2 separate regions of the Homo sapiens genome follow, and region 2 is linked to region 1. Evidence: fine-mapped expression QTL. Tissue or cell type: whole blood. Region 1 holds a variant in brackets; the other region holds the start of a gene. All regions are shown on one strand. Distances are from middle to middle.

Evidence for each region. PIP is the estimated chance that this variant, and not a neighbour inherited with it, causes the effect.
Region 2: ITCH starts here. The variant in region 1 is fine-mapped to the expression of ITCH in whole blood (TOPMed, PIP above 0.99).

Annotation. Positions count from the first base shown.
Region 1 is chr20:34,403,715-34,409,544 of GRCh38, forward strand. ITCH (itchy E3 ubiquitin protein ligase) reads left to right here. Exons shown (of 25, transcript NM_031483.7): 4 at 4,937-5,078. Among named protein-coding and RNA genes, the nearest start is that of ITCH, 43 kb to the left of the region's middle. The variant G/T (reference allele first, on the strand shown) is at 2,817.
Region 2 is chr20:34,360,453-34,366,282 of GRCh38, forward strand. It overlaps ITCH (itchy E3 ubiquitin protein ligase), which reads left to right and starts at 2,821. Exons shown (of 25, transcript NM_031483.7): 1 at 2,821-2,897. RefSeq lists a silencer at 3,126-3,355.

The DNA of each region.
Region 1 (5,830 bases):
AATAATTTAACTTCTTAGGATTAAAGAAGCCTTTAATCAAAGAGAAGGGGGATGTTTATCTCTCAGGAAATATAATTTTAATGGGTATAAAAGAAAAAAGGATCATTCTCAGTAGAGGGAGCAGCATGTTTAGAGGAATGAAAGTACATGGCCCATGTGAGGAACAGCAAATAACTAAGGGTGGCTAGAATATAGAACTTTGGTAAGATTTGTTTTAGTAGGAGGCTGGAAGGGTAAGTTATAGCTGCATACTAAGCAAGGTAAAATGCCCCATAAGAGTTTAAACTTCATTTTTCAGGCAATAAAGAATCATTTAAGTAATGACATTAATGACATGATCACATCTATTCTAGGAAAATAATTCTGGTGGCTGTGAGGGGTTGGATTGGAGAAGTGAGAGTAAAAACAGTTGTTTAGAGGCCTCTCATAGTAGCCCAGGTGTCAGATGAGACTGACATTTTTCTGGTCCTTTTTCTTCCGGTTTATAATGTATAGTTTTTTATTTTTTTGTTTAATTTACTGTGGGACTTTAGTTTTCAGAAAGTAGTACATTGATTTATTTTATATTTGTAATATTATGACTATAACACAAGGTTTTGTTCAATCTAGACTTTGAGATTTGAATACTGAAATAATTTCTCCTGTCCAGGTTTTGCAGTGTGACCCTTGGGCAAATTTTTAAATTTCACAGAGCTTCTGTCTTTTTTTTTTTTTTTTTTTTTGAGATGGAGTTTCACCCTTGTCACCCAGGCTGGAGTGCAATGGCATGATCTCAGCTCACTACAACCTCTGCCTCCCGGGTTGCAGTGATTCTCCTGCCTCAGCCTCCTGAGTAGCTGGGATTACAGGCGCCTGCCACCATGTCTGGCTAATTTTTGTATTTTTAGTAGAGACAGGGTTTCACCATGTTTGTCAAGCTGGCTCCTGACCCCCGTTGATCCTTTTGACTGAGACTTCCAAAGTGCTGGGATTACAGGTGTGAGCCACCACGTTCGGCCGCTTCTCTTTTTATGTGTAAAAATTAGGACAGTAATACCTGTTTCGCAGAATAGGTATTGATATTGAAATGACATTTACGTGCAGGCACATGGTAAATACTAAAATTGGTGCTCCTCCACCCCCATGTAAAGTTTGTTAGGCCAGGCCTGGTGGCTCATGCCTGTAATTCCACCACTTTGGTAGGCCTAGGTAAGTGGATCTCTTGAGCCCAGGAGTACAAGACCAACTTGGGCAACATGTCAAAAGCTTGTCTCTACCAGAAAAAAAATACAAAAATTTCCTGGATGTGGTGGCACGCACCTGTAGTCCCAGCCACTTGGGAGGCTGAGATGGGAGGATGGCTTGAGCCCAGGAGGTAGAGGTGGTTGCAGTGACCTGAGATTGTGCCACTATTCTCCAGCCTGGGTGACAGAACCAGACCCTGTCTCAAAAAAAAAAAAAAAAAAAAAAAGGTTTCAGTGGGGTTTGGTAGGATTATGTAGCAAAATTGCTTTCACAAATTTGAATCCAGCTGGGCACAGTGGCTCACGCCTGTAATTCCAACACTTTGAGGGGCCGAGGCAAGTGGATCACCTGAGGTCAGGAGTTTGACACCAGCCTGACCAACATGGTGAAACCCCGTTTCTACTAAAAATACAAACATTAGCTGGGTGTGGCGGCGCGTGCCTATAACCCCAGCTGCTTGGGAGGCTGAGGCAGGAGAATCGCTTGAACCCGGCAGGCGGAGGTTGCAATGAGCTAAGATTGTGCCATTGCACTCTAGCCTGGGCAACAAGAGCGAAACTCCTATCTCAAAAAAAAAAAAAAGTTTGAATCCTAGAAAGCCCCAACAGGGGCAGATCATTTCCTTCCTGTCAGCCTTGCGTTGCTCTTTGTTCTAGGTTTAATCAGTTTCAGAGTGCCACAAGAGGCCCTGAAATATAATGAGTGTATGTATAATTGTTTGGGCTATTTCACCTTTTCTTAGACCAGAAATGTATTAAAAGTAGAAATTTTATGTTTTTCTGTGTAATCCTGTGATTAAATTTGGCTCTATATTAAGCACTAGAGCTTTGATTTAATAGTACTTTTTTTTTATTTTTTATTTTTTAATAGAGATGAGGTCTCACTGTGTTGTCCAGGCTGGTCTTAAACTCCTGGGCTCAAGTGATCCTCCCGCCTGGGTCTCCCAAAGTGCTGGTATTACGTGCCCGGCCTATTACATTTTAATCAGAGATAGCTCTGGTCCCCACTTGAATATTTTTTATTCTGAAAAAGACTTTCTATTTCATGTTTCCACTTAGATGTCTCAGCATCTGGCATCTGAAACAATTTTTTTTTTTTTTTAAAAGACAGTTTTGCTCTGTTGCCCAGGCTGGATTGCAGTGGTGCAATCACAGCTCACTGCAGCCTTGACCTCCCAGGCTTAAGCGATCCTCCTGCCTCAGCCTCCCCCCAGCAGCTGGGACTACAGGTGCACGCCATCATGCCTGGCTAATTTTTAAAATTATCTTTTGTAGAGACGGGGGTCTCACTATGTTGACCAGGCTTTGTTCAAACTCCTGGGCCTCAAGTGATCTTCCTGCCTCAGCCTCCCAAAGTGCTGGGATTACAAGTGTGAACCACCATGCTTGATCTTGTCTATTTGTCTAGCCTTCTCTTGCAACTCTTCTTTTTCTTCAGTCAGTCATTCTGTGGCTAGCTTGAATGCCAGCAAAAAGGCACATAAGCCTAAAAGGATGGAAGTATTTGATATATGTAAAGTCAGAGTTTCAGGGCCACCACCTGGGACTATGCCTGCTTAGATATCCAGACTTTGGACTATATATTAAGCTGCT[G/T]CTTCTTTTTTTTTTTTTTTTCGAGATGGAGTCTTGCTCTGTCACCCAGGCTGGAGTGCAGTGGCGCAATCGCGGCTCACTGCAATCTCCGCCTCCCAGGTTCACACCATTCTCCTGCCTCAGCCTCCCGAGTAGCTGGGACTACAGGCGCTCGCCACCACGCCCGGCTAATTTTTTGTATTTTTAGTAGAGACAGGGTTTCACCATGTTAGCCAGGATGGTCTCGATCTCCTGACCTCGTGATCCGCCCGTCTCAGTCTCCCAAAGTGCTGGGATTACAGGCGTGAGCCACCGCACCCGGCTATATTAAGCTTCTTAAGTAGTTACTATATAAACTCCTCTGACAACTCCAAGGGTTCCTTAACTTTGATGAGCATTAGCATTCTCTGAACTTTGCTGCTACAGTAGATAACCTGGGTGGTGGAGTAGATAACCTGGGTGGTGGGTACTTCCTTGGTTGTAGTTACCTCATCTATGAGGGAGCAATGACTTGCCACCTATGGAAATCATGGGGTGCTTTGCTAGATTTCTACTTGTTATACCCTGTAAGGGGCCTGGACAAAGCTATTTTATGGCAAAGGTAACTAAAAGGTGAAGGCTAAGGAGTTTGTATCTCAAGATGCACAACATAGGAAGCTCTTCCTTAGATAATATGAGATGTTAAAAAAAAAATCTTAGTTTGTAGTTCTTATTCTTCCATTGGCTTTCCAACACACAGAATAAAATCTAAATTATCATTATTATTATTATTTTTGATACGTAGGCTCACTCTGTCGCCCAGGCTGGAGTGCAGTGGCATAATCTCGGCTCACTGCAACCTCCACCTCCCGGGTTCAAGCAATTCTCCTGCCTCAGCCTCCTGAGTAGCTGGGATTACAGGCGCCTGCCACCACACCTGGCTAAGTTTTGAAATTTTTTAGTAGAGACGAGGTTTCGCCATGTTGGCCAGGCTGGTCTTAAACTCATGACCTCAGGTGATCCACCCGCCTCAGTCTCCCAAAGTGCTGGGATTACAGATGTGAGCCGCTGCGCCCAGCTGCAGATTCTTTATCTTGGTTTATAAAGCTCCCATACAAAGCTTATCTCCCTTCATTTACCATTCCTTCCTGTGCTTGCTATACTTTCCCTCAGATATGCCATACTCATTTGCCTCTCTCTGGAATGCTGTCTTATTCCCACCTCCAGTCTTCCCATGGCTGGCTCCTTGTCATTTGGATGGTTGCTTAAAAGTCTTCTCAAAGGCCTTCCTTACTACCAAGTCATTTTCTGTCACATCAGCCTGTTTTTCATCATAAATACTTTAATTAGAATATAATCTCCTTGAAAGCCAGATCCTTTTCTTTACTGTTAATTGCTTTAGGGACAGAGTTTAGAGCAGTATCTGACACATGGTAGGCATTCAGATGTTTGTTGACCATGTTTGTCAATGCATACATTTTGTTTTGAGATATGGTCTCGCTGTGCTGCCCAGGCAGGTCTTAAACACCTAGGCTCAAGCAGTCCTCCTGCCTCAGCCACCTGAGTAGCTGAGATTACGGGTGCAAGCCACCCTGCCCAGCCATATGTGTACTTTTTAAATTTTTCCTCCTGTTGCCCAAGCTGTTGCACAACCATAGCTCACTGAAGCCTTGACCTCCTGGACTCAAGCGATTCTCCTACCTCAGCCTCCCAGGTAGCTGGGACTGGCACACGCCACTGTGCCCAGCTAATTTTTTTGATTTTTAGGCGAGATGAGGTCTCGCTATGTTTTCCAGATTGGTCTTCGACTACTGAGCTTAGGCAATCCTCTTGCCTCAGCCTCCCAAAGTTCTGGGATTAGAGGTGTAACCCGCTGCACCTGGCCCATATGTGTACTTTTTAATTGATCTGAGTTCTGGACTTTTGATACCATGGAATTCTACTGATGGGAATTTGGGTTGATGGTACGGGGAACCTCTATATTTATTTACTAGGATGGGAGGAAGTACAAAGGTTATGAGTGAATAAAATTGGTAAGTATTTTAGAGCAAAACTGCTTCTCTGAGTAAATTTAGTAAATCTGCCTAATTATGAAGTTAAATTGATTTCATGAGTGAATTAACATCTCAACTATTGAAATGTTTTTCATTTCTTTTACATAGTCATCTCAGCAAAACTTAAGGAAAATAAGAAGAATTGGTTTGGACCAAGTCCTTACGTAGAGGTCACAGTAGATGGACAGTCAAAGAAGACAGAAAAATGCAACAACACAAACAGTCCCAAGTGGAAGCAACCCCTTACAGTGTAAGCTTGGAAGTATTTTTCTGTAGTATGTTTTGTTTAGTAGATGATTGGAAATACAATTTAAAAAAATGTTTCTCACTTTGGTTTTTTGTTGTTGTTGTTCCTCCTTTCTCTCTTCTTTTTTTTTTTTTCTTTTTCCTAGGACTCCTTCTGGTTTGCTTTTTTGTTTCTCTTTAGATAGCTGTTTTTATAGTCACTCCCTTTCTTTACCTTCTCTAGTTTAGTTGGTGATGATATTGCTCTTGTCACTGAACAATAGCTGAAGAGAGCCCATGGTCACGGACCTAAAAAGATTTCTGGCAGCACTTTTTATTAACTTTGGGTTGAATTAAGGGATTATGAGTACTCCCCCCCCCCCCGGTTTTTAACTTAATTTTTAAAAATAGTGTTTTAGTTAGTTTTTTCTTTGTTTTATTTTGAGATAGAGCCTCACCCTGTCACCCAAGCTGGAGTATAGTGGCACTATCATAGCTCACAGCAGCCTTGAACTCCTGGCCTCAAGAGATCCTCCTGCCTCAGCCTCCCAAGTAGCTGGGACCACAGGCATGCATCACTGTGCCTGGCCAGTTTTTTAGTATTTTAAATTACGGTGCCAGTTATACTATAGTTATTTATTTTTTGAATGAGATGGGGTCTTGCTATGTTGTCCAGAGTGCTCTCTCTCAACCTTCCCGGCTCAAGCAGTCTTCCCATCTCAGCCTTTTTCTCAAGTAGCTAGGACTACTACTATACATTTTATTCTACAACTTTCT
Region 2 (5,830 bases), 43 kb before region 1:
CTAGGAGTTTGATTTTTTATTTTTTTTAGATGGGGTTTCACTCTGTCACTCAGGATGGAGTGCAGTGGCGTGATCTTGGCTCACTGCAGTCTCCGTCTCCTGAGTTCAAGCAATTCTCCCACCCCAGCCTCCCGAGTAGCTGAGATTACAGGGGTGTGCCATGCCCAACTAATTTTTGCATTTTTTTTTTTGAGACAGATTCTCGCTCTGTGGCCCAGGATGGAGTGCAGTAGCACGATCTTGGCTCACTGCAACCTCCGCCTCCCAGGTCCAAGCAATTCTCTGCCTCAGCCTCCTGACTAGCTGGGATTACAGGCACCCGCCACCACGCCCGGCTAATTTTTGTATTTTTAGTAGAGATAGGGTTTCACCATGATAGCCAGGCTGGTCTTGAACTCCTGATCTCGTGATCCGCCCGCCTTGGCCTCCCAAAGTGCTGGGATTATAGGCGTGAGCCACCGTGCCCGGTCTAATTTTTGCATTTTTAGTAGAGATGGGGTTTCACCATGTTAGCCAGGCTGGTCTTGAACTCCTGACCTCAGTTGATCCATCCGCCTCGGCCTCCCAAACCATGCCCAACAAATTTTTGCATTTTTAGTAGAGACAAGATTTCACCATGTTGGCCAGGCTGGTCTCAAACTCCTGACCTCAGGTGATCCACCCGCCTCAGCCTCCCGAAGTGCTGGGATTATAGGAGTGAGCTACTGCGCCCAGCCTTTATGTTTCTTTTGTTGTTTGTTTTTTGAGACAGAGTCTCGCTGAGTCGCCCAGGCTGGAGTGCAATGGCGTGATCTTGGGTCACTGCAACCTCCCCCTCCTGGGTTCAATCAATTATCGTGCTTCAGCCTCCCAAGTAGCTGGGATTACAGGCACCCGCCACCACACCTGGCTAATTTTTGTGTTTTTAGTAGGGAAGGGGTTTCACAAGGCTAGGCGTGGTGGCTCACCCAACTCTACTAAAAATACAAAAATTAGCCAGGCGTGATGGCATGCGCTTGTAGTCCCAGCTACTTAGGAGGCTGAGACAGGAGAATCACTTGAACCCAGGAGGCGAGCGGAGGTTGCAGTGAGCCAAGATTGCGCCACTGCACTCCAGCCTGGGCGACAGAGCAATACTCTGTCTCAAAAAAAAAAAAAAAAAAAAAAAGAGACGGGGTTTCACCATGTTGGCCAGACTGGTCTCAAACTCCTGACCTCAAGTGATTTGCCTGCCTTGGCCTCCCTAACTCCTGGGATTACAGGTGTAAGCCACTGACCCTAGCCAAGCCTAGGAGTCTGAGAACAGCCTGGGCAACACAGGGAGTCCACGTCTCTACAAAAATAAAAACAATTAGGATAGTGTGGTGGCTTGAGCCTGGAGTCCCAGCTACTCAGGAAGCTGAGGTGAGAGGATCACTTGAGCCCAGGAGGTTGGCTGCAGTGAGCTATGATTGCACCGCTGCACTCCAGGTTGGGTGACAGAGCAAGACTCTGTCTCAAAAAAAAAAAAAAAAAAAAAGTCACTTTGAAAAATGTGACTTTCCAGATGGCAAAATACTATTTTCATTAGGAGGAAACAGGCTAAACAGTAATAGCAAAGGTCACTAAGTATTGAGCACTTAGTCATACCTCTGAGTCTCTGCCTGCATAGCCTATTATTTCTCACAAGCAATCCATGAAGAAGGTTAAGACAACGGACTTTCACGCCAGACTGCCTGGGTTCTTATCAAGTATGTGACTTAGTTTATATATTTGTAAAATGGGGATAATAATGGTATTTCTGTAATAGGTTTGTTGTGAGAATAAAGGGAGCTTGGTATCAGCTCTTAGAATACCGGACAGGCCACGTTGGCTCCACTAAGCTGTTGTCATCATCCCTAAGGGCACCCAGTTAAAAGGTAGAAAAGGGAGGATTTGAATCCGGTCAGTGTAACTCTCAAGTGTACATTTTTTTTCTTTTATTTTCTTTTTAACCACGCCCTTTAATGTACATTGTTAAAGGCTAAGCCAGGCCAGGTGCAGTGGCTCACATCTGTAATCTCAGCGATTGGGAGGCCCGAGGAGGGAGTATCGCTTGAGCCCAGGAGCTGGAGACCAGCCTGGGCAACATGGCGACACCGTGGCCCTATTCCCGCCCCATCCCATCCGCACTCCACCCCATCCCCATCTCTACAAAGAATAGAACAAAATTAGTCGGGTGTGGTGGTGCTCAACTGCTGTCCCAGCTACTCAGGAAGCCCAGGTGGGAGGCTCGCTTGAGCCCAGGAGTGTGAGGCTGTAGTGAGCTATGACTGCACCACTGCACTCCAGCCTGGGTGAAGGGTGAGACCTTATCTCAAAAAGAAGAAAAAAAAAGAAAAGGAAAAGAAAAAGAAAAAAGAACAACTAAGTTATAAACTAAGCTATATAGCCCATTGGTTCTCAAATTATGATTTCACTCACTAGCAGTATCACTAGACAGCTTGTTGGACATGCAAATTATCAGACCCTATCCTCCTATGCCAGATCTTCTGATCAGAAACTCTGGGGGTGGGGGTCAGCAGTGTAAGTTTTAATAAGCTCTCTAGGTGATTCTGATGCACACCATAGTTTGAGAATCACAGTCCTTATAGGCTCTGGTGGGCGGGGTGTTAAAAAAAAAAAAAAGCCTGGAGGTGCTGGGAGCCGCTCGCGCCCATCTCACCTGGAGCTGAGGAAAACTGGGATTTAACTGATTTACCACCGCAGCCAGCTCTTCAAGCCAGGGGCGGGCCGGACGGCTGGCGCGCAAGGCCTGCTGGGGCTTGTAGTCTAGACCACTTCCGCGCTCAGGCGCCTGCGCTTTAGCTGCTAACTCGCTCTAGTAGCTGTGGTCGGGGCTCGGGACCGGCTGCCATCTTAGTCTAGGGACTGAGGAGTCGCCGCCGCCCCGAGTCCCGGTAAACCCCCGTGGGCGAACTCGGGGCAGTTCTCGGGAGAGGGAGGGAGTCCGGATGAGAATGTTCGGGGAGAACAAGGGTAGAGGAGTGGGACGCGCGGTTCGGGACCCCAGAGCCGCGGCTGCTCCTTCTTCCAGAGCCGGTGTCTGTCGGGGGCGCGGGGAGCTCGGGCTACTGGCCCGGGCCGGGCGGTGGGGGTGGGCTGTCTGGACGTTCGGAGGGATCAGTGTCTGGCACAGGCTTCCGGAGGCCTTCGCCTCGCGGGCTCCAAGTTGTGAAAGGGCTGGGCCACGACGGGCGTGGGTACCGTCCGGCCCCTCGCCCCTCAGCCCCGCCTGGGGCCACTCTCCAGCGGTTCGGCCTACGCGCGGGGCCCGGCGGCGGGGCCGGCGCGGGCGACGTGGCCCTGTGAGGGGCGGCGGCCGGGTCCCCCGCCACCCAGCTGGCCTTCTCGAGACTTTTCCGAGCCCCCAGTCGCTAGAAGGGCCCAGCACAGCGGCTGCCTCCCCTTCTCTCTCCCACTCGCCTCCTCCTTCCATTGTCCCCCCGGCGTGGTGGTCCCGGCTCCGGCGCCCTCCCCGACGTCCGCCACCGTCGTGGCGGCGCCGACTTTTGCAGACGTGGAGCTGTCACTGCCCTTCCTCCGGAGAGTGCCCTTTTCTTTAGCAGAGAAAAGAAAAAAGTAGCCGTTGAACGTATTCTAAGGGTCGAAGCATGATGACATGACTTTTAAGTGGAGAACTCAAGTTTTCCAAGACAGTTCCCGTCCGCGACAGAAAAGAGAATCGCAGAATTTGTGCGCCCGAAGTAGACGCTGGGCCTAAAGTTAGTTGGACATGTAACCAGGTGAACTTGTAAAGGGCCAGGAATTCATTATCCCCAATAACAACGCAACCTTGTTTTCTTGGTTGTATTCGTATCCTAATCTTATTACATTTTCTGCCATTCTTCCACAGCTACAGTATACTTGGTTTGGAGTGGGGGATGGGGAATTGTGGGATTTTTGCCTTGAAAATTAGTAAGACCCTGGAGCCAGCCACCCACTTAGGTGGGTTCTCCTGCATCTTTTCCTGATAGAATTCGATCTTCAGGAAGTATGTAAAGGCAGTGTATTTCCATTCTCAAAATCGGCTAAGGAATGGTTTATCAGTTGAGGTGAAGTTCTCATGGCAGATCTGCTGAGAGCTTGCTATGTGTATTTACAGGTTTATTTAAGCTACGATTTATTTTTAAAATTAAGAAATGGGCCGGGTGCTGTGTGTGGCTCACGCCTGTAATCCTAGCACTTTGGGAGGCCGAGGCGGGCAGATCATGAGGTCAGGAGTTCGAGACCATCCTGACCAACATGGTGAAACCCCGTCTCTACTAAAAATACAAAAAAAAAAAAAAAAAAATCCTGGGCGTGGTGGCGCGCGCCTGTAGTCCCAGCTACTAGGGAGGCTGAGGCAGGAGAATGGCTTGAACCCGGGAGGTGGAGGCTGCAGTGAGCCGAGATCTCGCTGCTGCACTCCAGCCTGGGCGACAGAGCGAGACTCCGCCTCAAAAAAAAAAAAAAAAAAAAAGCAATGGGATGGGTGTGGTGGCTCACGCCTGTAATCCCAGCAATTTGGGAGGCCGAGGTGGGCGGATTACGTGAGCCCAGGAATTGGAGATCAGCCTGGGCAACATCGTGAAACCCCGTCTCTACAAAAAATACAAAGATTTGCCGGGTGTGGTGGCAGGCGCCTGTGGTCCCAGATACTCAGGAGGCTGAGGTGGGGGAATCACCTGATTCCGGGGGGTCGAGGCTGCGGTGAGCTGTTACCGTTGCCACTGCATTCCAGCCTGGGTGACAGAGTGAGACCCTGTCTCAAAAAATAAAAAAAAAAATTTAGAAATGAAGGTGGAAATTCTACTGCTTCTTTGAACTGTGAATTTAAGTTTTGTGAGTCCAAAAGGAATTCCATTACATTCAGCATACAGGTCAAGTCACCAAGGATATCATATGAAATTAAAAAAATGAGTACAGACTACTTCTTCAGTGTATTCTAGAATCAAACATTTCTACATTCTTTAGAAAAAAATACATCTTTTTCGTTTGTTTGAGACGGAATCTAACTTTGTCACCCAGGCTGGAGTACAGTGGTGTGATCTCGGCTTACTGTAACCTCCGCCTCCCGGGTTCCAGCAATTCTTCTGCCTCAGCCTCCGTAGTAGCTGGGACTACAGGCGCGTGCCACCACTCCCGGTAATTTTTTTGTATTTTTTAGTAGAGATGGGTTTTCACCATATTGGCTAGGCTGCTCTCGAACTCCTGACCTCGTGATCCACCTGCCTTGGCCTCCCAAAGTGCTGGGTTTACAGGCATGAGCCGCCACTCCTGGCCCTAAAAAATACATCTTTTCACTTATTGGGAGAGGCAGACAAACCAGTAGTCCCCAAATTTGACCATTAGAATAATTAGGAGAGCTTAGAAATTCCAGGGTCTTACCTTCTGAGATGGATTTAGTAGGTCTGGGTTGGCTTCAACCAATTTATTTTTAACACATGCCTTAGGTAATTCTGATGGTCTTGGGAACCACTGAGGGCAAATGGTACTGTAGACTTACCAAGGAAAGGTCAAAAAGCTTTGAGACGAAAGAGGAAGTGGCCAATTCTGTGTGTGTGGCTGGGTGGAGGATTGGTTAGAAGAGGCAAGATTTGCCCCTGAACCCACATTGGGTCTTACATGAAGAGTAGGAGTGTGAAAAGGGCGGGGAAAGAGAAGGACAGGGTAGGCTGAGTGAATGCCTTAATGCTGTGTGTAAATTCAGAGGATTATGGAACAAAAAGGGTTCAGGGAGTGTGGAGTGGAATGGGGAAGGAGAGCATTTTGAAACGCAAGGTCAGAAAGGTTAAAGGAAGCAAGTATATGAAAAGTGATTTTTTGTTGTTGAGACTGGGTCTCACCCAGT